Homo sapiens: one gene and its partners. The protein of the gene in region 1 interacts with the protein of each later gene in a pairwise test. Each region holds a gene or a part of one and is shown in the gene's direction. Other genes may lie near its edges.

Region 1 (3,500 bases):
GAAAGATGAGAGAAATGGCTTAGCTACCTGGAGGGTTAATTATAAAACAGAGGTCCTGTTGCCTTCCGATCTGATCACTTGCATCTCATTTGCAGATCACCTTTAGGCTCCACAGCCTCTGCCCCAGCACCCTCAGCACTCCCGGCCCCTCCAGCACCCCCAGTCTTCCATGGCATGCTGGAGCGGGCCCCAGCAGAGCCCTCCTACCGTGCTCCCATGGAGAAGCTTTTCTACTTACCTCATGTCTGCAGCTATACCTGTCTGTCTCGAGTCAGACCTATGAGGAATGAGCAGTACCGGGGCAAGAACCCTCTGCTGGTCCCGTTACTATATGACTTCCGGCGGATGACAGCCCGGCGTCGAGTTAACCGCAAGATGGGCTTTCATGTTATCTATAAGACACCTTGTGGTCTCTGCCTTCGGACAATGCAGGAGATAGAACGCTACCTTTTCGAGACTGGCTGTGACTTCCTCTTCCTGGAGATGTTCTGTTTGGATCCATATGTTCTTGTGGACCGAAAGTTTCAGCCCTATAAGCCTTTTTACTATATTTTGGACATCACTTATGGGAAGGAAGATGTTCCCCTATCCTGTGTCAATGAGATTGACACAACCCCTCCACCCCAGGTGGCCTACAGCAAGGAACGTATCCCGGGCAAGGGTGTTTTCATTAACACAGGCCCTGAATTTCTGGTTGGCTGTGACTGCAAGGATGGGTGTCGGGACAAGTGAGTTGGTGGGGGGAATTGCTGCCCCTGCTTCCAACTTTGTTATGGTGTCTGTTTCACCTCTTCCTTTGCCTTGTATCTGTACTGCTTTCCCCATCTTCCTTTACCTCCTCCCTCACCTGGAACTCCTGCTATAAGGCCTCCATGAAAGCTATGAGGTAGGGAGGCTGGAGTCTGACATGGCCACACTGAGCAACCTTGGGTACATGTGTATTGTGTTATTTTTGTTCTCTGATCCCCCCGCTCCTTTCCTTTATTTCCCTCTGTCATATAGGTCCAAGTGTGCCTGCCATCAACTAACTATCCAGGCTACAGCCTGTACCCCAGGAGGCCAAATCAACCCTAACTCTGGCTACCAGTACAAGAGACTAGAAGAGTGTCTACCCACAGGGTAAGTGGTCAAGGAATGGCACAGTACCTCAGAGAGACTGAGGAGCATGTTCTTGTTTTTCTGTGCTTATAGAAATCATCAGAAATCTAAAAATTGGAACCAAAAATAGAATACCAGATGAGGCATTTTATTAATTAGATCTTATTTCATGACTTCCAAAACACATTTTTTTTCTTGGACCTTCCTTGAAATGAAGACATAGAATGATTGAATAGTATCTAGCAATTTTCTGTTGCAAAAAAAGATTATCTTAATTTCATAGCTAAATGAATGTCTTAACAGATTGTGATTTACACTTGTAAGTGAAATGTGTTCAGAGAGGAGAAGTAGGCAGGGACCTGATTACATAGGGCTTTGTAAATCAGAATGAAAAAAGTTAGAATCAGGCTGGCACAGTGGCTCACACCTGTAATCCCAGCACTTTCGGAGGCCAAGGTGGGTGGATCACCTGAGGTCAGGAGTTTGAGACCAGCCTGGCCAACCTGGTGAAACCCTGTCTCTACTAAAAATACAAAAATTAGCCGGGGGTGGTGGCGGGTGCCTGCAGTCCCAACTACTTGGGAGGCTGAGGCAGGAGAATCGCTTGAATCCAGGAGGCAGAGGTTGCAGTGAGCCAAGATCATGCCACTGCACTTCAGCCTGGGTGACAAGAGCGAGACTCTGCCTTAAAAAAAAAAAAAGAAAAGTTAGAATCAAATTCATGGTGCTCTTACAGGATTTTAAGCTGCCAAGTGATGTGACCTGCCTTTTTCAGATTACTCTGGCTTCTTTGTAGATCATAGGTCTTAGGATGGCAAAAGTAGATTTTGGAAGACCAATTAGGAGATCGTTATAGGAGTACAGCAGAGAGAGACATTGTTGCAGCTATGACTTGCAATAGAATGGAGGTGATAGTAGAGGTAAGAAGGATAGATTTGGGCTGTATTAATAGGTAGAGCTACAGAATTGGATAGATTATGGAGTGGGGGGAAAGAGTAGAATCAAGGACAATTCCTAAATTTTTGGCTTGAGCATCTTAGTGGTTGTTGGTGCTTTTTACTGAGATGGAAGACCGAAGGAGTAGTAGGTTTGAGTGAAATTCAGTTTTTGTTTTGGCCATGTTAAGTTTGAAATGCCGCCGGGCGCAGTGGCTCACGCCTGTAATCCCAGCACTTTGGGAGGCTGAGGCGGGCGGATCACCTGAGGTCGGGAGTTCAAGACCAGCCTTGACCAACATGGAGAAATCCCGTCTCTACTAAAAATACAAAAAAAAAAAATTAGCCGGGCATGGTGGCGCATGCCTGTAATCTCAGCTACTCGGGAGGCTGAGGCAGGAGAATTGCTTGAATCTGGGAGGCGGAGGTTGTGGTGAGCTAAGATCGCACCATTGCACTCCAGCCTGGGCAACAAGAGCGAAACTCAGTCTCAGAAAACAAAACAAAACAAAAAGTTTGAAATGCCTGTCAGGCAATCCAAGTAGAAATGTCAAGAAGACACTGGGATTTCTGGAGAGAGTGGGATATAAAAATTTAGGAATCATCAGCACAGGAGTATTTAAAGCCTGAATAAGTTCACCTAGAGACAATGTTGATAATAGAGAAGGCGGCTCAGGAGTAAGCCCTGGGTGCCCCAACATTTAAAGGTTGAGCAGAGGAGGTGGAACCAGCATGAGGTTGAGGACAGCTACTGAGGAGGGTGAGGCCGAAAGATTACTTGAGGCCTGGAGTTTGAGACCAGACTGGGCAACATAGTAAGACCCTGTGTCTAAAAAAAAATTGTTGGGGCTGGGCGTGGTGGCTCACGCCTGTAATCCCAGCACTTTTCGAGGCTGAGGCAGGCAGATCACTTGAGGTCAGGAGTTCAAGACCAGCCTGGCCAATATGGTGAAACCCCATCTCTACTAAAAATACAAAAAACTTGCCAGGGATGGTGGCGAGCACCTGTAATCCCAGCTACTTGGGAGGCTGAGACAGGAGAATCACTTGGACCCAGGAGGTGGAGGTTGCAGTGAGCCAAGACCGCACCATTGCACTCCAGCCTGGGCAAGAAAAGCAAAATTCTATCTCAAAAAAAAAAAAAAATTGTTGGCCATGCGCGGTGGCTCATGCCTGTAATCCCAACACTTTGGGAGGCCAAGGTGGGTGGATCACCTGAGGTCAGGAGTTCAAGAACAGCCTGGCCAACATGGTGAAACCCCATCTGTAATAAAAATACAAAAATTAGCCAGGCGTGATTGTGCACGCCTGTAATCTCAGCTATTTGGGAGGCTGAGGCAAGAGAATCGCTTGAAGCTGGGAGGCAGAGATTACAGTAAGCTGAGATTGCACCACTGCACTCCAGTCTGGACAACACAACAAGACTCCGTCTCAAAAAAAATGATTTAAAAATTAAAAAAAAAATTT
Region 2 (3,500 bases), on another chromosome or scaffold:
GGAGGCGGAGGTTGCAGTGAGCTGAGATCGCACCATTGCACTCTAGCCTGAGGACAGAGCAAGACACGTCTCAAAAAAAAAAAAAATACTATTTTATATAAGCCTTGAGTATCCACGGATTTTGTTTTGCAAGGGTCCTGGAACTAACCGCTTTGGGGTGCTATCAGCTTGACCACGTCAGAACCTTGTTCTGTTTTTCATAACATTTAAATATCAATACACAAAAAACTCAGCATCTTTATTTTCTCATGTAGTTTCTTATTTATTGTGATTTCTGTGATGTAGGGACCTACAAGTACTAAAATGTCAGAAATCAAGTTGCAGAATGAATTAGGAACAGCACCAGGACCAGACCATGGCTTTCTGGTACTACTGATGTGTTGCAATTTGCTCAGATAATACATCTTTAAAAAAGAGAAAATAAGGCTGGGCGTGGTGGCTCATGCCTGTAATCCCAGCACTTTGGGAGGCAGAGGTGGGTGGATCACCTGAGGTCAGGAGTTCAAGACCAGTCTGACCAACGTGGAGAAACTCCGTCTCCACTAAAAGTACAAAATTAGCGTGGTGTGGTGGCACGTGCCTGTAATCTTAGCTACTGAGGAGGCTGAGGCAGGAGAATTGCTTGAACCTGGGAGGCGGAGGTTGTGGTGAGCTGAGATCGCGCCATTGCACTCCAGCCTGGGCAACGAGCGAAACTCCATAAAAAAAAAAGAGAAAATGGCAGTACAAAATTAATATAGAAAAAATATTAAAATAGAAAAAAATCTTGAATTGCATGCTATTTAGTTTGTTTAGTTTGTATTTAAATACAAATGTATATTTAATTACACTTTTTGAATGACTTGATTTTAGTAAACTAATTTTATAGATTATGGGATATTTCCTAATCTGTGTTCTAAAAATGTTGATAGTATGATAACAAACAAGTAAAACTATCTTTAGGCCAGGCGCGGTGGCTCACGCCTGTAATCCCAGCACTTTGGGAGGCCGGGGAGGGTGGATCACCTGTGGTCGGGAGTTCTAGAACAGCCTGGCTAACATGGAGAAACTCCATCTCTACTGAAAAAATACAAAAATTAGCCAGCCATGGTGGCGGGCTCCTGTAATCCCAGCTACTTGGGAGGCTGAGGCAGGAGAATCACTTGAACCTGGGAGGTGGAGGTTGCAGTGAGCCGAGATCACGCCATCGCACTCCAGTGTGGGCAATAAGAGCAAAACTCCATCTCAAAAAAAAAAAACAAAAAACTATCTTTAGCCTGGGTGACAGAGCGAGACTCTGTCTCAAAAAAAATAAATAAAGGTGACAGCAGGCCAGGCATGGTGGCTCATGCCCGCAATTCCAGCACTTGGGTAGGCCAAGGTGGGCAAATCACTTGAGCCCAGAAGTTCCAGACAAACCTGGGCAACATGGCAAAATCCCTCTCTCTAAAAAACTATAAAAATTACCCAGGCATGGGCCAGGTGTGGTGGCTCACGCCTGCAATCCCAGCACTTTGGGAGGCTGAGGCGGGCGGATCACACGGTCAGGAGATCGAGATCATCCTTGCTGATACGGTGAAACCCCATCTCTACTAAAAACACAAAAAAAGGAGAATCACTTGAACCCATGAGGTGGAGGTTGCAGTGAGCTGAGATCGCGCCACTGCACTCCAAACTGGACGACAGAGCAAGACTCTGTCTCAAAAAAAAATACATATATATATGATATCATATATATGATATATATCATATATATATTTAGATTTTTTACTGTACAAACAACAGCATTACAACAGTAATGGTGAAACTTTACCTATAATTCTATTCCTAGTTTATTATTTCTTTTTATATTTTTTCTGCTGTATATGTATCATTTATTTCATAATTATAATTGTAAATAAATTTTTGTATCTTGCTTTATAATTAAGCATTATGCTATGAACATTTTTCTATGTGTTGCTACAGTCTTTCTGATTTCCTTTTTTTTTTAAATGAGACAGAGTTTTCCTCTTGTCGCCCAGGCTGGAGTGCAATGGCATGATCTCGGCCCACTGCAACCTCCGTCTCCTGGGTTCAAGCGATTCTCCTGCCTCAGCCTCCCTAGTAGCTGGGATTACAGGTGCCCGCCACCACCCCCAGCTCATTTTTGTATTTTTAGTAGAGATGGGGTTTCACTGTGTTGGCTAGGCTGGTCTCGAACTCCTGACGTTAGGTGATCTGCCCGCCTCTGCCTCCTAAAGTGCTGATTTCCGTTTTTTAATGAGTGTTTTAAGTTTCCTTGAGTCAATATACAAAATACATTTAACTATTTCCCTATTGTAGGAACTGCCAAGTTAGGCTCTTTTTTTTTTATTCAGTGGTTTTGTTGTTGTTGTTTTCTTTTGTTTTTGTTTAGGACGGGGTCTCGCTCTGTCGCCCAGGCTGGAGTGCAGTGTCACGATCTCGACTCACTGCAACCTCCGCCTCCCAGCCTCAAGCAATTCTCCTACCTCAGCCTCCTGAGTAGCTGGGACTACAGGCATGGAGCCACCATGCCTGGCTTTTTTTTTTTTTTTTTTGGTATTTTTAGTAGAGATGGGGTTTCTTGGCCAGGGTGGTCTCAAACTCCTGGCCTCAAGTGATCTGCCCGCTTCAGCCTCCCAAAGTGCTGAGATTACAGGCAAAAGCTGGCACACCTGGCCATAAAGTTAAGCTCATTTTAAATTTTTTAATGTTGCCATGAATGAACTTTCACACTGACTATCTTTGCAGATATTTTTATTTTACTTCTGAATTTTCTTTAGGACAAAATCTCAGAAATAATTGGGTCTAAAAGGTTGATTAAGCCAGGCGCAGTGGCTCATGCCTGTAATCGCAGCACTTTGGGAGGCCGAGGTGGGTGGATCACTTGAGGTCAGGAGTTCAAGACCAACCTGGCCAACATGATGAAACTCTCTCTCTACTAAAAATACAAAAATTAGCTGGGTGTGGTGGTGCACGCCTGTAGTCCTAGCTACTCAGGAGGCTGAGAATCATTGGAACCCGGGAGGAGGAGGTTGTAGTGAGCCGAGGTCATGCCACTGCATTCCAGCCTGGGTGACAGAGCGAGACTCTGTCTCAAAAAAGAAAAAAGTAAATTAAAAAATAAAAGATTGGTTATTACATTTTTGTAAAGCCACTTGAAGAACTATAAAATGCTATTTGTTTTCTTACAGTTAATTTTTTTTAAAAAACTTTAGCACCACCAAATCCAATTTTTTGGAGAAAGAAATTTCTTGGCCAGGTAAGGTGGCTCATGCCTGTAGTCCCAGCACTTTGGGAGGCTGAGGCAAGCGGATTGCTTGAGTCCAGGAATTCGAGACCAGCCAGGGCAACTTGGTGAAACCTTGTCTCTACAAAAACACAAAAAATAGCTGGGCCTGGTGATGAGTGCCTGTGGTCCCAGCTATTCAGGAGGCTGAGGCGGGGGAATCACTTGAGCTGGGGACATCAAGGCTGCAGTGAGCTGAGGACGTCAAGGCAGCATTGAGCTGAGATCATGC
Region 3 (3,500 bases), on another chromosome or scaffold:
GCACCCGGCCTTCTTTGTACTCTTTATCTGTGTTCTCTCATACCTCACTGAGTTTCTTTAATATCATTGTTTTGAATTCTTTTTTATCCATTTCATGGATTGTCTTTTCATTGGGATCTGTTACTGGAGAATTATTGTGTTCCTTTAAAGGTGTCATGTTTCCTTGCTTTTTCATGTTTCCTGTGTTCTTACATTGATATCTGTGTATCTGGTGTAATAGTTGCATCTTCCAGTCTTATGGATTGACTTCCATAAGAAAAGACTTCCCTATAGATGTATCTATGGTGTTGGTAGGGTGGGGTGCTTTGGCTTTGATTCTGGGTGGGTGCAGTGATGTAGTTTTTATATATCTTCAGCTGTAATCAGCATCAGTGGGTATCTATGGGTTCTTTAGTGGCTTAGGCTATAGTTGTTATTGGAGGCTGTGACAAGGCTTTATTGCAAATGGGGATACCAAGTGGGCTGGTCCTTAGGCACCAGTGGTAGTGGTGGCAAGCCAGGTATGCTAGTCCCTGGGCCCCCCAGGTGGTGTACATGGGTTCTGGTGATGGTGGATCTGGGCAGGTCAGTCCTTAGGCCTCCAGTGCCTTGCTCAGGTGCCGGGGGTGGCAGTGGTGGGCCAGGTGAGCCAGTCCCCAGGTAGTGCATGTGGGTGGGTGGTGGCTGCAAGCTGGGTAGACTGGCCATCAGGCTTTTGGGAGACATACATGGACACTGGTGGCAGGCAGGGTAGGCCTATTCCCAGGCTCGCAGACTATGCATGGGTGGCAGACAGGGCAGAACGGTCCTTTAGACCCCAGAAAATGTGCACCAGTGGTGGTGGGCAGGGTGGATCCATCCTATGCCCCTGGGTCATGTGTGTGCTGGCAGTGGTGGTGGTGGGTGGGGTCAGCCTATCCTCAGGCCCCTAGATGGCATACATGGGTGCTAGTGGTGGTGGGGGTTGGAGGCAAGTCAATCCCCAAGCCTCTTAGACACTGTACTCGGTCACTGGCAGCAGTGGCAGGGGTTGGTGTAGGCCTCTTGAGTAGATTTTTAATCCACCCACCAATTTAGTTTATCTCTTCTAAGCAAGTCTCACTCTTATATCTTTATTTTATTACTTTTCGGTTTATAAAAAGCAGAAGAGGAAAGGAAAATTAAAATTGCCTATAATGGAGTCCCCTGTCAGTCATGTACATATAACTCATTAACACTAAATAGTATATGTTGATAATCATTTCAAAAAATGCATCAAAAGCATATACTTACTGTTTGGTAACATGTTTTTGAAACTTAAAATGTATCAAACTTTCTTATATCATTGGGTTTTCTTATAACATGGCTTTTTGTTATTTGCATAGTATTTTCATGTGTATTTTACCATTTACTTAATTCCTTATTGCTAGCAATTTTGGTTGTTTCTAGCTATTCACTACTCAAAAATAACATTATATTCCTCTCTGATTTTTCCCTTGGGATCAATTTCTAGGATTAGAATTGCTAGGTTAAAAAGTATGAGCATTTTTAAGGCTTTCAATAAACTTTACCAAATAGCCCTCCAGAAACATGGTGCCAATTTATGACTCACCGGGAGGGTATGAAGGAACCCAGATTTTCATAGTAAATTACAAAGGTTACTGTATTTTTATTCAAAAGGTAGGCTGAATATTGATTGGTGTAGGTGACCTTACCCTCAGCCATTGTGGTGTTTAAACACAAATGTTGGTTGGGCGCGGTGGCTCACGCCTGTAATCCCAGCACTTTGGGAGGCCCAGGTGGGCGGATCACTTGAGGTCAGGAGTTTGAGACCAGCCTGGCCAACATGGTGAAACCCTGTCTCTACTAAAAATACAAAAATTAGCTGTGCGTGGTGGTGGGCGCCTATAATCCCAGCTACTCAGGAGGCTAAGGCAGGAGAATCGCTTGAACCCAGGAGGCGGAGGTTCCAGTGAGCTGAGGTCGCACCACTGCACTCCAGCCTGGGTGACAGAGTGAGATTTCATCTCAAAAAATAGAAAATAAAAAATAAAATAAATGCAAATGTTGAGTGAATGTGTTCTTTTGACTTCTCTTTCCTTGTAGACTTCCTCTGCTAAATTACCTCGCTGCCGACAGGGAGGCTGGGCAGGTGATTCCGTGAAGGCTTCGAAGTGAGTACCAGCAGCTCATAAGAGTATGGGTGGGGGTGCACACGGTTGGGGGGACTTTGCTCCTGTGTTGTTTTATTTTTTACAATAGCTTTATTGAGAAAAAATTTATATACCATACAATTCACCCACTTAAAATGCACAATTTAATCATTCTTAATATATTCACAGAGTTGTGCAACCATTAACACAATCAATTTTACAACATTTTCATCACCTCCCCACCAAAAGAAACCCTGTATCTATTAGCAGCCACTTCCCATGTCCCCCCAACCTCTCTAGATCTAGGTGGTTACCAGTCAACTTTCTCTCTCTCTGATTTGCATATTCTGGACATTTCATGTAAATACAATCTACATTATGTGGTCCTTTATGGCTGGCTTCTCTCACTTGTCATAATGTTTTCAAAGTTTATCCATGTTGTAGCATTCTGTGTTCTTCTTAATTTCCAAAACATAATGGAATTGCCTGTTGGTAACTGCTGATGAACTGTGCGGCATGTCCTCCCCTGACATATATCAGTCATCATTCATAAAGGGGAACAATACAGATGTCCCATCACCCTGCCTAGTTGGTATCTTGTGTTTACTGTAAGCTGGCATGAATATTTATACCATAACCATCTGACATTATCTCATCAGCCTCTCCAGAGCTCCTGGGAAGGCTGGGAAACCTGATGTCACAGTGCATGTAGCAGCACTTTATAAACTGCATAGTGTTCAGTGTGGGGCTGTAGATGGCAGATGCCATTCTCTCTGAGCTGGATGATGTTGGGTAAGATGTTTACCATGGCTGAGCACCTGGATGGACACATTGATGATCCCTACAGGGTGATTCAAAGACTGAAGGAAATTACATATGTAACAGGAATGTTGCTGTTGTGTTTAGCCCTCCCAGCCTTTCCACAGCTTAGACTAGATGCTGATCCCTGTGGTTCCATATTGAGGGGCGGCAGAGTGTGGTGACAGCCGCAGGTACTGGAGCCAGCTGCCTGGCTTTGAATCCTAACTGTGCCATTTATTATCTCAGAGACCCCAAGCAAGTAATTTAATATCTCTGGTCTCCATTTCTGTATCTCTACAATGGGGTTAAAAATAGTTCTTACTTGAAAGGATCATTGTGAGGATTAAATGAATTCGTATGTGTAAAATATTTAGAAGAGAGATGCATTTAGGAAGCACTTGTAGATGTTGGCTATTATCATGATGATGATGACTGTTTCTTATCCCCATTCTGTCCTCATAGATAGGCTTTGACCATATTCTTCTCACAGGCATTCTGGCAGGTGGTGATGTTTGTGAGTTGCAGGAGCTTTGGGATCTTTATGGTGCCATAAATGCTTCATATGAAGGGTCGGTTTGGGAGAAGTAA
Region 4 (4,070 bases), on another chromosome or scaffold:
CACCTGAGCTTGCTTGGGCCCAGTGTGGGGGTGGCAGGCAGGTGAGGGCTCCGTTGCCTTGGTCTGGGGGCAGAAATAAAATCCCCGCAGCCTACTGCACTTCTTGGCTCAACGGTGTGCCAGCTTCTGGGTCATTCTATGGGCAAAGATGCTGCCTTAGTTCAGGTTTGTCAGAAGCAGGGTCTGGAATGGGGCTTCAGCGAGGGAGTCAGGGAAGCAGGGGAGGGGAGGGAGCAGCTGGGCAAGGAAGTGGCTTCAGAGGACGTCCAGCCTCAGCTGGCCCCACGGAGAGCTCCAGGCAGAGCCCACAGTACCACAGTGTGCCCACACCACCGGTTACTGGCTCCTGGATGAGGGGGCCAGAGAGGAGTGAATAACTTCCCAGACACTTATCTCCAGGGCAGGGTGCCTTCCAGTAGCCAAGGGAAGCCTCCAGAGAGCACAGATGTGAACCCTCAGCAGCAGGCATCACCCCCCAGTGGACTCGGGTGGGCCACCAGTAGCATCTTCTAGATGGCAGAGGGGTGAATGGCAGGGCCAGGAACCAGGCTGCCCGGGTTCCCATTCTGCTTCTGCCACTTCCAGCTGTGTGGCTTTAGGTGAGCCTTCACCTTTTGGTGCCTTCGTTTCCTCATTTAGCACCTACCTCCTAGAGCTGTTTTGGGAGTCAAATGCGCTGACGTATATAAAGTGCTTTGCAAGATCCCTTTGTGTTTGCGGCTGTCATTGTGGAAGAGTTGCAACTTGGGGGCCCGAGATTGGATGAAGCGCACAGCCACGCTTTGGGTTACACATTTGAAACTCAGGGGGCTTCCATATTGCAGTCTTGAGTTTGGTCTCCCTGGGAAGGTGGGGCACCAGCCCCATGCCACGTTGCACGTATCAGCTGGAGCAGAATCCTGGCTTCCTTCCGGATGGGCCTGGGGTCCATGCCCGCGCTCACTGCCAAGATCTTTCTGGCCCCTACGGACACGAGTTTGCGACCTCTGAGTCACTGGGTGGGCGCGTCGGAAAGACCAGGGCGCCTCAGTCTGGAGCTCGCAGTCGTATGGAGAGGGCAGGACCAGCCGGGGAGGAGGGCGGCGCGCGCGAGGGTCGCCTTCTTCCCAGGGCACCGGGGGCGTGGGTGCTGCGGGCGTGCGCCGAGAGGGCAGCCTTGGAAGTGGGCGCAGCTTCGGCAGACACAGGCGTGAGGGGCTGCGGAGCTCGAGGGCCGGCGCCCCTGCTTGCCTCTGCGGGAGGTGGGCGCGCCCGGGACGGAACCTGGGGCGTCAGAACGAAAGGCAGCGGCGCCGCGCTTCCCAGCCGGCCAGCCTCCCGCGCAGCGCCCCGGCCGGAAGCCTCCTCGCCGCCGCTTCCTCTCGAGAAGGCGCGGGGCGGGCTGTCCGGCCCGCAGGGCGGTCGAGGTGGGAACGGAGCAGCCCCGGGGGCCCCCTTGAGGCGGCGAGGCCGCGAAGGGCGCGGGGCTGGAGGGTAGGAGAGCGCGGGAAAGCGCCCCAGACGCCACTCGCGGCGGACGGCGGCCAGTTCCCAGGGGTTTGGAGCCGGGTGCGCAGGCGTGGGGCCTCCGGGCACGGGGCGGGCCCTTAACAGGCACCGCTGCGGGGACTGGAGTCGGCGGAGAAAACCGGGGTCCCCAGCGCTGGGGGTGGGTGAGGGTCGCTCATTTTCCCGGGACGGTGACGGGTACTGGGCGTCGCCAGGCCCCGGCCCCGCTAGAGCCACCCTTGGAGCCCGCCCGCGGCCGGCCTTGGGGGCTTCGGCTCAAGCGCGTCTTCTTCGTCGCCAGCCCGCGGCGCCATGGCTCACGTCGGCTCCCGCAAGCGCTCGAGGAGTCGCAGCCGGTCCCGGGGACGGGGGTCGGAAAAGAGAAAGAAGAAGAGCAGGAAAGACACCTCGAGGAACTGCTCGGCCTCCACATCCCAAGGTCGCAAGGCCAGCACGGCCCCTGGGGCGGAGGGTGAGGACCACAGGCATCGGGGAGAGGAGGCGCAGTTACTACCCGGGGAAGTCGGGCGAGCAGTGGTCGGGGACGCTCAGTCATGCCTCTGTGCAGCCGGGCCTGAGATGTGAGGGCCAGGCGCCGCAGGAGCCAGGAAGGGGCTCCTCTGGGAAGCTCCATCTCTGTTCTGGAAAGCCCCTCAGGAAGCGCTCACCCTGTAGCCGGTCTGTGCCTGCCCCAGGCCAGAGCAGGGGACGAAGGTTTACCTCTTCCCCTCCTGGCCTTCCAGCCTCACCTTCTCCCTGCATCACAGAGAGAAGCAAGCAGAAGGCCCGGAGGAGAACAAGATCCAGCTCCTCCTCCTCTTCTTCCAGTTCTTCTAGCTCCTCTTCTTCCTCCTCGTCCTCCTCCTCTTCCTCCAGTGATGGCCGGAAGAAGCGGGGGAAGTACAAGGACAAGAGGAGGAAGAAGAAGAAGAAGAGGAAGAAGCTGAAGAAGAAGGGCAAGGAGAAGGCGGAAGCACAGCAGGTGGAGGCTCTGCCGGGCCCCTCGCTGGACCAGTGGCACCGATCAGCTGGGGAGGAAGAGGATGGCCCAGGTACTGTGCTGCCCAGCACCTGAGAGGGAGAAGGTCGCTTCCCAAGGCCTGGCCACCACCTCCGTCTTCCCTTCCAGTCCTGACGGATGAGCAGAAGTCCCGAATCCAGGCCATGAAGCCCATGACCAAGGAGGAGTGGGATGCCCGGCAGAGCATCATCCGCAAGGTGGTGGACCCTGAGACGGGGCGCACCAGGTGGGGAGCTTTCGGCCTGACTTACACCACAGGATCTGGGAGTGTTGGCTGAAGATGTGTGCTCTCGGGAGGAGTGGGGCCGGGCGGGGTTCCTGGTGCCTGAAAAAGGCCAAATGTGGGCAAAAATACGGTCACTTGGAGTAAGTAGTTGCAGGGGCTGGAAGGGCCTGGAGGAGGCTCTTGAAAGGGCTGTTGTTGGCCGGGCTGAGGCTGGCAAGGCAGAGCCCAGCTCCACTGCCTTCATCAGGGAGAGTGGGTGAGGCCCCAGGGTCTGTCCACTCAAGGCTGCGGGGTGGGAGCCCTGGGACCCCTCTGCCGGCTGCTTGTGGTTCTGCTCCTCTGGCATTAGGGGACCTGCCTATTCCTTGCTGAACGGAGACCCTCCCACCCCCAGGCTTATTAAGGGAGATGGCGAGGTCCTAGAGGAAATCGTAACCAAAGAACGACACAGAGAGATCAACAAGGTGGGTGTGGCCCCTCTGCCTGCCATCCGCCCCCAGCTCTGTTTGTGATGTACCCCTCCTCCTGTGTGCTTTCTTCCCCAGCAAGCCACCCGAGGGGACTGCCTGGCCTTCCAGATGCGAGCTGGGTTGCTTCCCTGAGGGCCCCCGCTGGCCAAGGCCTGTGGACGACGCTGGCGGCCCAGCCTGGGCAGGTTTCAGGGTGCCAGTGGGAAGCCTGATGGGTGCTGGTGGCCTTTCCCCCGTGGATTGGTCTCTGGCCCAGCCCAGTCTCTTCTCAGGGGCAGGGGGTGGAGGTTGGGGTCACCGGCCTGCTTGGCACCCCCATCTGAAAGAGCAGCACTTCTCAGCTATTAAAGGCCCCCTGGATAGACTTTCTCTGTTCTGTGGCTTTTTGTGCTGAGTGGGAGGGAAGGGTGCTACATGACTGCCAGGGAAAAACAAGGGCTCCGGGAGCTTTTGGGCAAAGCTGGGGTGTCCTCTGGTGGTCGTGAGCACAGGCCACACCAGCGCCTGTGCCTTCCTCTTCAGGTCAGCCTGCCTGGACCAGACCTCATGCCAGCTGAACCCCAAACCCAGAGAGCTGGCTCTGAAATGCCATGCACTCAGGCATGGAGAGAGTCGGCTTCCCCTGCCATGTTCATTCCACAGATCGCAGCAGTGCAGAGCCAGGTGCTGGGGCTGGGTGGCCTGTGTGGCAGGTCTGGCTCTCACTGCCCAGCTGTGTCTTCCACTCTGAGGCAGGGAGGCTCACAGCACCCGTTTCACTGAGGTCTGTGAGGGCAAACTGAGTTCCATCCCAGGAAGGAGCTAGAAGCAGGCTAGGCCTAGAGTCAGCCCCGCACTCACGTGTTGGCGTCACTGTGAGTGTCAC
Region 5 (3,500 bases), on another chromosome or scaffold:
GAACCAAACTAAAGGATCACATCTTAAAGCTCTTCTGTCTCTGATTCTTCCTTACCTTAGACTCAGGTAAAGCATTGTTAGTAAGGTCATAGGACAGTGGTTTCTTAACTTTTATATAACATGAATTACCAAAATTCCACAGACAGTCCATTTTCTTCAAGCCCTAGATCAATCCAGATCTCCAGAGGATAAGAGGCCTGCATATTTTTTAGAGTTCTACAAGTGATTCTTTCTTCACAGTAGTGCCTGTTAAAGAGAAAAATTACTACACTACACTTTTCTTTTTTGTAATTTCATAGTAGATTCATTAAAATCTTGTCATGGAAAAGACACTAGGATTTGCAAATTACTATTCCAGACCAGCTTTTGAAAACCCTGAAAATGGAAAATTCAGGAGATTCCCCCCTTAAAAATGAAGAAATCAAGTAAGTCTAAGCAAAATATCTCCTACTAACTTAAGGATCTTTAAGCAGCAACATCTATCATGTTACGACTTCTAAAAGTTAGAAACTGCCATTTAATCAGCACTATAACCTCATGAGGTGAGTATTCCTGTTTTACAGGTGAGGAGACAAATTTAGGTAGGTTAAATCATTTTGCCAAGGTCACCTAGCCATAAAGTATTGCAGCTGAGATTTGAACCCAAGTCTGTCTGATTCCAAAGCCTGTAGTCATGTTACCACTCTTGTAACCATTATGTTATACTGTCTTAGCTCTTTTTTATAGAGTGGAATCTGACTTGTAATTCTTCATCTAGTATTGCGTGGCCCACACCACTTGAGTACATTTCAATAAAGTTTTATTGAGCGCCTGTGATGCTGCTGCAAGGCATAGTTTATATATATTGCTAATGTGTCCTTATATTTTTCTTTATAGTTTGTATGTAGTAAGTGGATTTTGGGTATATACAAAATGCTTGTTTGCCAAGTGTAAAAATATGACATAGCTAATACAAGAAAATGTAGTCAAAGAGTTTATGTTCTTTTTTTTTTTTTTTGAGATGGAGTCTCGCTCTACTGTCGCCCAGGCTGGAGTGCAGTGGCACCATCTTGGCTCACTGCAAGCTCTGCCTCCCAGGTTCACGGCATTCTCCTGCCTCAGCCTCCCCAGTAGCTGGGACTACAGGTGCCTGCCACCACGCCCAGCTAATTTTTTTGTATTTTTAGTAGAAATGGGGTTTCACCGTGTTAGCCAGGATGGTCTTGATCTCCTGACCTCGTGATCTGCACACCTTGGCCTCCCAAAGTGCTGGGATTACAGGCGTGAACCACCGCGCCCGGCCGACAGTGATTTTTCATAAAGGTGTTCCCTTTGTTCTGGGATTTTTAGCCTTCATACATTTTTACTGTTAGGCATTTCCTTTTTCAGATGATGGTGATAATAGTTAAAAAAATTTTATTGATAGTATTAAGGGAGTCCACTACCTTGTGTCAGATTCCCTGTTTCTTTTTGAAGCCCTTGAAATGAAGTTTAGGGACCACTGATCTAGAATTCTCTTTATGCTCCTCCACTACCCATTAACCCCACTCTGTAGTCTGCCTTTTCGCTTTCTTCTCTCCTCCCTTCTAAACACTTCGTAGAACACTATGTTTTCTGTTCATGATTGACCTTCAAATTGCCAAATCCTTTGGCCTTATAAACCGTATGTACTTAACCAACACTCTGTTGTTAACAAATCCTTCAAAACTGTTTTCTTTTGCTTCCGCTCTGTTTTTCCTGTCATCCACTTATCACTTTTCTTCATATGTTTTCTTTCTTTTGTTCCCAGTTGTTATTATGTGGGGTTCTGGTTCTATTTTATGTTCTCACTGTATATTCAGAATCAGATTTTTAGCTACCATGTACCATCTTAATAATACCTAGCATTTATTTACTCTTTCCTAATTGTTATTTCAGTGCTTCAGTATTTCAGTATTCATTTAATTCATTCAGTATTCATTTAATTCTCAAAACAACTCAGTGAGGTTGATACAGGTATAATTGGTGTCTTTTTTTTATTTTTTCTGACACTGGCATATCGAGGCCCAAAGGTTAAGTAATCTATGCAACTAGGAGGCAGTAGAACTGGGATTTAAACTTAGACTGCCTGTAGAGGCCATGTTCTTAACCACTACTAGATTTTTGGCGTCCAGATGTCCCTTGTATTTCTAACTTCCGTTTAGTTTTTCTACCTCAAATTCAATACATCCATTCAGTTAATCTCAAGTGCCTGCCTCTTTCCCTTGACAAAACACACTTGCTCATTCTTTATTCCTTGCCACATTAAAGTTAACACTATCCTCCCCATCGCTAGTACTATAGAGGTCATTGAACCTTCCCCCTGCGTATGGCCTGTGAGTTTTATTGATTCCAGCATGATTATTTGGTGATATTTGAGTGCGATTTTGTGCTAGATCCTGGGTGTATAATGATGTATGAGACACAGACTTTGTCCTCAGGGAGCTTATACTCTAGAAATAATTTTTTTTTTTTTCAAGAGAGCGTCCTACTCTGTTGCCGAGGCTGGAGTGCAGTGGTGCCAACATGGCTTACTGTAGCCTCAGGCTCCCGAGCTCAACTGATCCTCCTGCTGCAGCCTCCCGAGTAGGTGGGACTACAGACATGGACTATCACACCAAGCTGTTTTTATTTTTAGTTCAGGTGGGTTCTCAGTTTGTTGCCCAGGCTGGTCTTGAACTCCTGGGCTCAAATGATTCTCCCACCTCATCCTCCCAAAGTCCAAGTATTGGGATTACAGGCATGAGCCATCATGCCTGGCCAATAAAATGTTACAACAAATTAGCAGAATGCTGAGAGAATAAATGGTGATAGGAAACCTGTATATGTAATGGAGTTTCAGATAATACCTAATATTTATTGAGCACTTTCTTTTTTTTTTTTTAGAGACAGTTTTCGCTCTGTCACTCAGGCTGGAGTACAGTGGTGCTATCTCAACTCACTGCAACCTCCACTTCCTGGGTTCAGGCAGTTCTCATGCCTCAGTCTTCTGAGTAGCTGGAATTACAAGCACCCACCAACACGCCCAGCTAATTTTTGTATTTTTTGTAGAGATGGAGTTTCACCATGTTGGCCAGGCTGGTCTTGAACTCCTGACCTCAAGTAATCCGCCTGCCTTGGCCTCCCAAAGTGCTAGGATTACAGGCATGAGCCACTGCGCCTGACCTATTGAACACTTTCTATATGGTTGACATTATTTTTGGTTCTTCAGTACATTTAATTCTCATAAAGTTCCTAAATGTATACTTCTAGATCTGAAGTATCGGGAATACCTAATTGTACAAAGAACATGCCAGTTGGAAGCTACAGCATTTAGCAGAAGTTCTAAAGTAGGAAAGAGCTTCATTTAAACTGTGAACTGGCCAGGTGTGGTGTCTCACGCTTGTAATCCCAGCGCTTTGGGAGGTTGAAATGGGAGGATCACTTGAGCCCAGGAGTTGGAGACCAGCCTGGGCAACAGTGAGACCCTGTATCTAAAAAAGAAAAAAAAAAAAAAGAAAATG
Region 6 (3,500 bases), on another chromosome or scaffold:
AAACGATTCTTCTGCCTCAGCGTCTCGAGTAGTTGTGATTACAGATGCGCACCACCATGCCTGGCTAATTTTTGTATTTTTAGTAGAGACAGTGTTTCACCATGTTGGCCAGGCAGTCTCAAACTCCTGACCTCAAGTGATCCACCCGTCTCGGCCTCCCAAAGTGTTGAGATTACAGGTGTGAGCCACCGGCGCCCAGGTACTCTCATCTTTTGAAAGTTGCTATTTATGGTGGTTTCTGGTTTCCTTCAAACTTGTGTTGTATTTCTGTTGAGGTAATTTAGCATTTATACTATGAAAATCATTGAGAACTTTTAGAAGAAGCAGTTGTTTTGGGAACCAGACAAGCTTTTGTGCAGTTTTTTTTTTCAATGGTGGAAAATAATTTATTTCTCTACCTTGAGTGTAAGGCAAGGGAAAAAAAACTCTTACCAATTGCGTTTTGGAAAACGCAGTTGGTAATATCTCTAGATAATATCTCTGGAGACGTACATAACTTTAATTTTCCTCGAAATTTGCAATATGACAAAATTGAAAAGGGAAATAATACCTCTCACCATTAAATACAAGAATATAATAATCTGAACAATTGAAATTATACTTAAATATGTTATTGACTCTAAAATAATAGAAATGCCTTAATTCCAGACAGTCTTTAAGAAAGCATAATGTGGCTAGGCGTGGTGGCTCATGCCTGTAATCCCAGCACTTTGGGAGGCCAAGATGGGCAGGTTGCTTGAGCCCAGGAGTTTGAGACCAGCCTGGGCAACATGGTGAAACCCTGTCTCTACAAAAAAATACAGAAAGTAGCCAGGTATGGTGGCGTGCATCTTTAGTCCCAGCTACTCAGGAGGCTGAAGAGGGGAGATGGCTTGAGCCCATGAGGCAGAGGTTGCAATGAGCTGAGATCACACTACTGCAAGCCAGCCTGAACAACAGAACGAAATCCTGTCTCAAAACAACAACAACAAAAAACAGAAAGAAAAGAAAGTATGTTTTACATATTTCCATTTTCTCCTTACTCTTCTGAAAAACAAAAATGAAAAGTTTTCATTTTTTTTAACATTTCCTTTAAATGTAAAATTTTATATAACTGTTCTTGGCTTTGGTAGTCTGTTGTCAGAATCAAGTACAGAGATTGTACTGTCAGACGACCTAAAACTGTTTTAAATCTTAAGTGTCCTAAAGAGAGGGCACATATTAGCTTGGAAGCAACTGGTGAAACTTGATATTCAGAGACAAGGCCGTAGAGGTTAAATGAAGTTATATAGTAAAAAACAGCCTTTACGAGTTAATGAAATGTTACAACCAACGTATGCTGAAGTGAAGCAGTATAAAAGAAGGAAAGAACTGGAAGGTCATCCTTTTGTCAGTGTTGTTACCTTTGTCTCTGTTCTTCAGATTGTTTGAGAAAATGAAGTGATTTCCACCAAAGACTTCATACCCAGCTTTCCCCCCTTTTTGTGCCCTTTGGCATTCTCTGCTTCTCTATCCCCCTCATGTCAGCAGAGATGAATTAGGAAATAGGTAGGAGGGAGAGAGAGCAAAAACAGAATTTTTCCATTGTTTTCTAGCTGTTTTGGATGAATTTGAGCAGTAGGCCCTTGGACTTCACAAAGTGCTAGTATTGTTTTGAACATCCCAGCAACCATTGCATTATATTAGTATTTCAAAGTGAAAATAAGAAAGACTACAAGTGTGGGAGGATGGGGGTAAAATCCAACTTAGATGGACCTGCAGAAAAGTTGAAAGATTGATTTTCAAGTATTTTTATTTGTATATATAAGAGAAAGAATGAGCTAAAGACTCTAAAAGAGTAGCTGGTGCATATTAAAAATTATAGATTAGCAAGCCACAAATTTCTGTTCCGAAAAATGTTTTAAAGTAATGTGGCTGAAGTATTAGATTATTAGGAATATTTTGAGTGTTCTAACAAGAGTGCCAAAATTAATTTGGAGAGTAACGACTGTTTCTACTCTTTGGACTCTTGCCAACATTTGTGGGTAAGGTTTAAGGAGAAGGTGCCTATCTTTCCCACCTCACTCAGTAGTAGTTTTCTCATCCTTGTAAAATACTTAGGGAGATTCTGTGTTGTATTGCTTGAACCTCACAGGTTTAAAAGACAGGAAGGTGAATTTTTGCACTCAAAGAAGTTATTTACTAATTTTAGAATAGAGACTGAGGGAATACAATAAGCAGAGATAGAGTGATATGAATGAATAAGGAGTGTATGTGAGAGAGAGTGAGCACAGGTATAGCAAGAGATTATTGTCATCTCCCTATTTTATATAATCAAATAGTTGAAATTCTAAAAATTCAGTTTATTTGGCCAAAGATTAATTTAGTCAGTCACAGGTATTTGTTATGAATCTGTTATGACCTAATATTGTGCTAGGTATCAGGAATTCATTCAGTAGTGAACCAAAGTGCCTACCTTTATGGAGCTTACATTGAGTGGTGGATATCAATAAATAGTAAGCAAATACAAGCTGGGTATGGTGGTGCATGTCGTAGTTCTGGGTACTGGGGAGGCTGAGTTGGGAGGATTGCTTGAGCCCAGGAGTTTGAGGCTAGCTTGGGCAACATACTGAGACCCCTGTCTCTTAAAAAAAAAAAAAAAAAAAGTAAAAGCAAGCAAAACACAATCAATATAATTTCAGTTAGTGATAAATGCCTTTAAAAAACACCAAGATAAACTGTGTGTCGGTTAAGATGCAATCATAAGTCAGAAGCCACAGGTATTTTCAAGAGGGTAAGTTTAATAGAGTTACTGACTATATCAGGGAAATTAAAGAAAATTAAAAGAATACAAGAATAGTTTTAAGAAGCAGCCACTACTGATAGGGCTGAGATAGAGTGCCCAAGTAAGAACCTTTTTTGCCAAGGCTAAGATTCTTACCTTATTGGAAGGAATATGGCCATGACTCAGTAGCAGAGCAGTCACTGGTGTTGCTCTGGTGGAACTTACTGGAAATGCATCCTTCAAAACTTGGTGGGAAATATGCCCTCTAGGTCACGGGTTGGCAAACTGTAGTCCTTTTGCCAGCTGTTTTATAAAAAAAAGTTTAAATAGAACACAGCTATGCCCAATCTATTTACATATTGTCTGTATCTGCTTTCTCACTACAAAGGTAGAGTTATGATGTTATAATCTGCAAGCCTAATTTACTATTTGTCCCTTTAAGAAAAAGTTTATAAATCCCTGTTCTGGAGTACTCTAAAAAACTGTTTATGGGGAGATATCTTGTTAGAGATACTCTGCTTTGAAACCTCCCAAGGGAGAGGAAGCACCAGTGAAAGCTGATGGTCTTTGAGTGTTGCTGACCACCATTAATATCAAGAGCTAGGCACTGGAGAAGCTGCCTCCACTGCAGAAGCTTGCCAAGGATACATGAGTCAGGAACAAGAGCTCCTTTTTCTTGTAATATCTCTCTTTTATCCCCTGCTGACAGAACTTAACATCATGGCACCTAGAAAAAGAAAGATATTTATTTAAGGAA
Region 7 (3,500 bases), on another chromosome or scaffold:
CTTTGGAGGTGGCCAGGAAGCCCATAGGAGGAGGGAATGCTCAGTGTGTGCCCTGAGAGCTTTGCCACTGTCAGAAAGCACCTGACAGGAACAAGTTTGATTGTATTTGACACATGCCGGCACTACCACAGAAAGTTTTAGCAACAGATAAGAGGGGACATCTGTACTCTCAACTTCTTTTTTCATACTTCCTATTGAAGTTTTCATCTCTACTCTCAGGCATTTAATTTCTAAGACTGCTGTTTATTTTTAATTGTCTTAAAAAATAGCATCCCATTCTTGTTTAACAGATGATATAGCTTCTTTTACCTCCTTGAGGAAGATATTAATAATAGTTTTTTAAAACTTTTCTTCTCACTGCACAATCTCTTTTCTTTGTCCTCCTTTTGTTCCTGTTTAAAATGATAGCCATTTATCTTTTTCTCAGGTGTCTGGTGATGTGTGGTTGTCTGGTCATGTTTAACAGTGGGATTTATAATGCCGATTGGAAGCTGTGAGCATATGGGTGGAGCTTCTGAACTTTTCTGCAGTGTGAGCTGGTGCATCAATTAATTGGGAACCCATAGGTCAGTATCTTCGACTGTGTTGTCTTGGGTTGTTCAGATTGTCTGGAGAAGACTCACCCACCCTTATTTCTGGAGGGATGAAGGCCTATAAACTCCGGAAACAAAGTAGAGATAGAGGGAATGTCTTAGAGCTTGTAGGTATGTGTTTATCTAATCCACATGTTTTCCAGACAGAACCTCCATCCTCAATTGTGCCTGATGTTTCACCTCCAGAGATTCTTTAGAAAATAAATGTCCAGGCCAGGTGGGGTGGTTCACACCTCTAATCCCAGCACTTTGGGAGGCTGAGGTGGGCGGATCACCTGAGGTCAGGAGTTCGAAACCAGACTGGCCAACATGATGAAACCCCGTCTCTACTAAAAATATAAAAATTAGCTGGGTGTGGTGGCAGGTGCCTGTGATCCCAGCTACTCAGGATGCTGAGGCAGGACAATCACTTGAACTGGGAGGCGGAGGTTGCGGTGAGCTGAGATTACGTCACTACACTCCAGCCTGGGTGACAGAGTGAGACTCTGTCTCACAAAAAAAAAGAAAAGAAAAGAAATGTCCAGTCTCTACTAGGGAAGGGCATTTTTCCAGAGGCAGGGAATAGGGGAGAGGGTCCAGGGATCTAATTTCTTATTATTATTTTTATTTTTTTTTAGTTTTGAGATGCAGTCTTAACTCTGTCGCCCAGGTTGGAGTGCAATGGCGTGATTTCAGCTCACTGCAACCTCTGCCTCTGGGGTTCAAGTGATTCTCCTGCCTCAGCCTCCCAGGTAGCTGGGATTACAGGTGCCTGCCATGACACCTGGCTAATTTTTGTATTTTTAGTAGAGACAGGGTTTCACCATGTTTTTCAGGCTGGTCTCGAACTCCTGACCTTAGGTGATCCACCTACCTTGGCCTCACAAAGTGCTGGGATTACAGGCGTGAGCCACCAAGCCTGGCCTTCTTCTTATTTTTAATATAAAGCCAGATTTGTTGAGTTATAATTTACATAGAACAAAATTCACTTGTTAGTAGACAATTGTATGAGTTGTGACATAAAACTATCTCAGCATATAACTCATATGCTGAGTTATGTGGTAAGTATGTGTTTAAATGTATAGGAAATTGCCAAATTGTTGTCTCAGGTGGTTGTACCATTTTATTTATTTTATTTTATTTTATTTTATTTTATTTTATTATTTTATTTTATTTTATTTTATTTTATTTTATTTTATTTTATTTTATTATTTTATTTTATTTTATTTTATTTTATTTATTTTATTTATTTTTGAGACAGAGTCTCGCTCTATTGCCCAGGCTGGAGTGCAGTGGCACGATCTCGGCTCACTGCAACCTCCACCTCGTGGGTTCAAGTGATTCTCCTGCCTCAGCCTCCCAAGTAGCTAGGATTACAGGCGTGCACCACCACACCCAGCTAATTTTTGTATTTTTAGTAGAGATGGGGTTTCACCATGGAGGCCAGGCTGGTCTCAAGTTCCTGACCTCAGGTGATCTGCCTGCCTCAGCCTCCCAAAGTGTTGGGATTACAGGCGTAAGCCACTGCGCCTGGCCTGGCAGTACCATTTTAAATTTTCACCACTAATCTATGAACATTCCAGTTGTTCCTCATTCTTGTCAACACTTGGTATTTTCAGATTTTTATTTTTTAATTTTAGCCATTCTAATAGGTATGGATTTAATTTCCATTTTTCTAATAGCCATGATGCTGAGCATCTTTTTGTGTGCTTGCCATTTGTGTATCTCCTTTGGTGAAGTGTCTTTTCAAACACTTTCCCTATTTTTATTGGGCTGTTGTGTTACTGAGTTTTCAGAGATGTATGTGTATTCTGGATTTAGGTCCTTTATCAGATACGTGTTTTGCAAATGTTTTGTCCTCATCTAGTGGCTTGTCTTTTCATTGTGACTGTCTTTTGAAGAGCAGATTTTTAAAATTTTGGTGTGGCTAATAAATTATTTAGTTGTATGGATTATGCTTTTGGTTTTGTGTCTAGGAAATTGTTACCTAATTCAAGGTCACAAAGATTTTTCTCCTGTTTTCTTCCAGAAGTTTTAAAATTTGGGGTTTTACATTTAGGTATGTTATTAATTTTTGTATAATTTTTGTATGTTAGGCAAGGTATAGATTGAAGTTCTTTGTTTTTGCATATGGATGTTCAATTTTTCCAGCACCATTTGTTGTAAAGGTTATTCTTTCTTGATTGAATTGAATGTATACCTTTGTTGAGAGTTCACAAAGCTGTGGTCTGTTTTTGGATCCTCTAATTTTATTTCACTTATCTCTTTGTCTGTCGCTCTGTCACTTGACCAGTACCACACTCTTTATGGCCATAAATGTTGAAATCTAGTACTGCAATTCCCCAACATTTCTCTTTCTCTAAATTGTTTTGTCTGGTCTAGTTCCTTTGTTTTTCCAAATAAATTTGAGAATTACTTGTTGATTTCTGCTAAAATTTCAACTTGGATTTTGGTTGGCATTGCATTGATTATATAGATGAATTTGAGGAGATTTGACATTTTAACAATATTGAGTCTTCTAGTCCATAAATATGGCATATTCTCTCCATCTATATGTCTGTGGATCCTTATATCTGTGTTTTGTTGTTTTCAGCATAGAAATCTTGCACATAGTTTCATGAGATTTATACTTAAGTGTTTCATGTTTTGGTGCTATTATATAATATATGGTAATTTTTAAAAAACATTAGATTTTTAATTTTTTGTTATAAGTATGTGGATACAATTGACCTTTGTATGTTGAATTTGTATTCTGTGACTTTGCTAAACTCAATTAGTTCTAATAACTTTTTTTCTAGTTTCTTTGGGATTTTCTGTATAGACAATCATATCATCTGCAAATAGAGACAGTTTCATTTCTGCCTTTCTAATCAATAAACCTTTTATTTCTTTTTCTTGCCTTACTGCACAGGCTAGGATCTCTAGTAT

Evidence for each region.
Region 2: the proteins of SETDB1 (region 1) and CEP76 interact in binary tests that used the Homo sapiens proteins (3 or more experiments, as listed by UniProt).
Region 3: the proteins of SETDB1 (region 1) and IFT43 interact in binary tests that used the Homo sapiens proteins (3 or more experiments, as listed by UniProt).
Region 4: the proteins of SETDB1 (region 1) and ARL6IP4 interact in binary tests that used the Homo sapiens proteins (3 or more experiments, as listed by UniProt).
Region 5: the proteins of SETDB1 (region 1) and STRN3 interact in binary tests that used the Homo sapiens proteins (3 or more experiments, as listed by UniProt).
Region 6: the proteins of SETDB1 (region 1) and HSF2 interact in binary tests that used the Homo sapiens proteins (3 or more experiments, as listed by UniProt).
Region 7: the proteins of SETDB1 (region 1) and HSF2BP interact in binary tests that used the Homo sapiens proteins (3 or more experiments, as listed by UniProt).

Annotation. Positions count from the first base shown.
Region 1 is NC_000001.11:150,950,363-150,953,862, forward strand, and holds part of SETDB1 (histone-lysine N-methyltransferase SETDB1), read left to right. Parts: intron 1-95; coding exon 96-728; coding exon of another isoform or gene 729-732; intron 733-1,002; coding exon 1,003-1,119; intron 1,120-3,500. UniProt on the Homo sapiens protein: Histone methyltransferase that specifically trimethylates 'Lys-9' of histone H3. H3 'Lys-9' trimethylation represents a specific tag for epigenetic transcriptional repression by recruiting HP1 (CBX1, CBX3 and/or CBX5) proteins to methylated histones.
Region 2 is NC_000018.10:12,682,224-12,685,723, reverse strand, and holds part of CEP76 (centrosomal protein of 76 kDa), read left to right. Parts: intron 1-3,500. UniProt on the Homo sapiens protein: Centrosomal protein involved in regulation of centriole duplication. Required to limit centriole duplication to once per cell cycle by preventing centriole reduplication.
Region 3 is NC_000014.9:76,020,263-76,023,762, forward strand, and holds part of IFT43 (intraflagellar transport protein 43 homolog), read left to right. Parts: intron 1-2,064; coding exon 2,065-2,132; intron 2,133-3,500. UniProt on the Homo sapiens protein: As a component of IFT complex A (IFT-A), a complex required for retrograde ciliary transport and entry into cilia of G protein-coupled receptors (GPCRs), it is involved in ciliogenesis.
Region 4 is NC_000012.12:122,979,340-122,983,409, forward strand, and holds ARL6IP4 (ADP-ribosylation factor-like protein 6-interacting protein 4), read left to right. Parts: upstream 1-1,341; 5' UTR 1,342-1,406; exon of another isoform or gene 1,407-1,648; intron 1,649-1,789; 5' UTR 1,790-1,800; coding exon 1,801-1,960; intron 1,961-2,231; coding exon 2,232-2,540; intron 2,541-2,617; coding exon 2,618-2,735; intron 2,736-3,129; coding exon 3,130-3,199; intron 3,200-3,280; coding exon 3,281-3,337; 3' UTR 3,338-3,570; downstream 3,571-4,070. Other genes in the region: OGFOD2 (2-oxoglutarate and iron-dependent oxygenase domain-containing protein 2), read left to right, coding at 1-7.
Region 5 is NC_000014.9:31,019,880-31,023,379, reverse strand, and holds part of STRN3 (striatin-3), read left to right. Parts: intron 1-3,500. UniProt on the Homo sapiens protein: Calmodulin-binding scaffolding protein which is the center of the striatin-interacting phosphatase and kinase (STRIPAK) complexes.
Region 6 is NC_000006.12:122,402,652-122,406,151, forward strand, and holds part of HSF2 (heat shock factor protein 2), read left to right. Parts: intron 1-3,500. UniProt on the Homo sapiens protein: DNA-binding protein that specifically binds heat shock promoter elements (HSE) and activates transcription. In higher eukaryotes, HSF is unable to bind to the HSE unless the cells are heat shocked.
Region 7 is NC_000021.9:43,533,989-43,537,488, reverse strand, and holds part of HSF2BP (heat shock factor 2-binding protein), read left to right. Parts: intron 1-3,500. UniProt on the Homo sapiens protein: Meiotic recombination factor component of recombination bridges involved in meiotic double-strand break repair.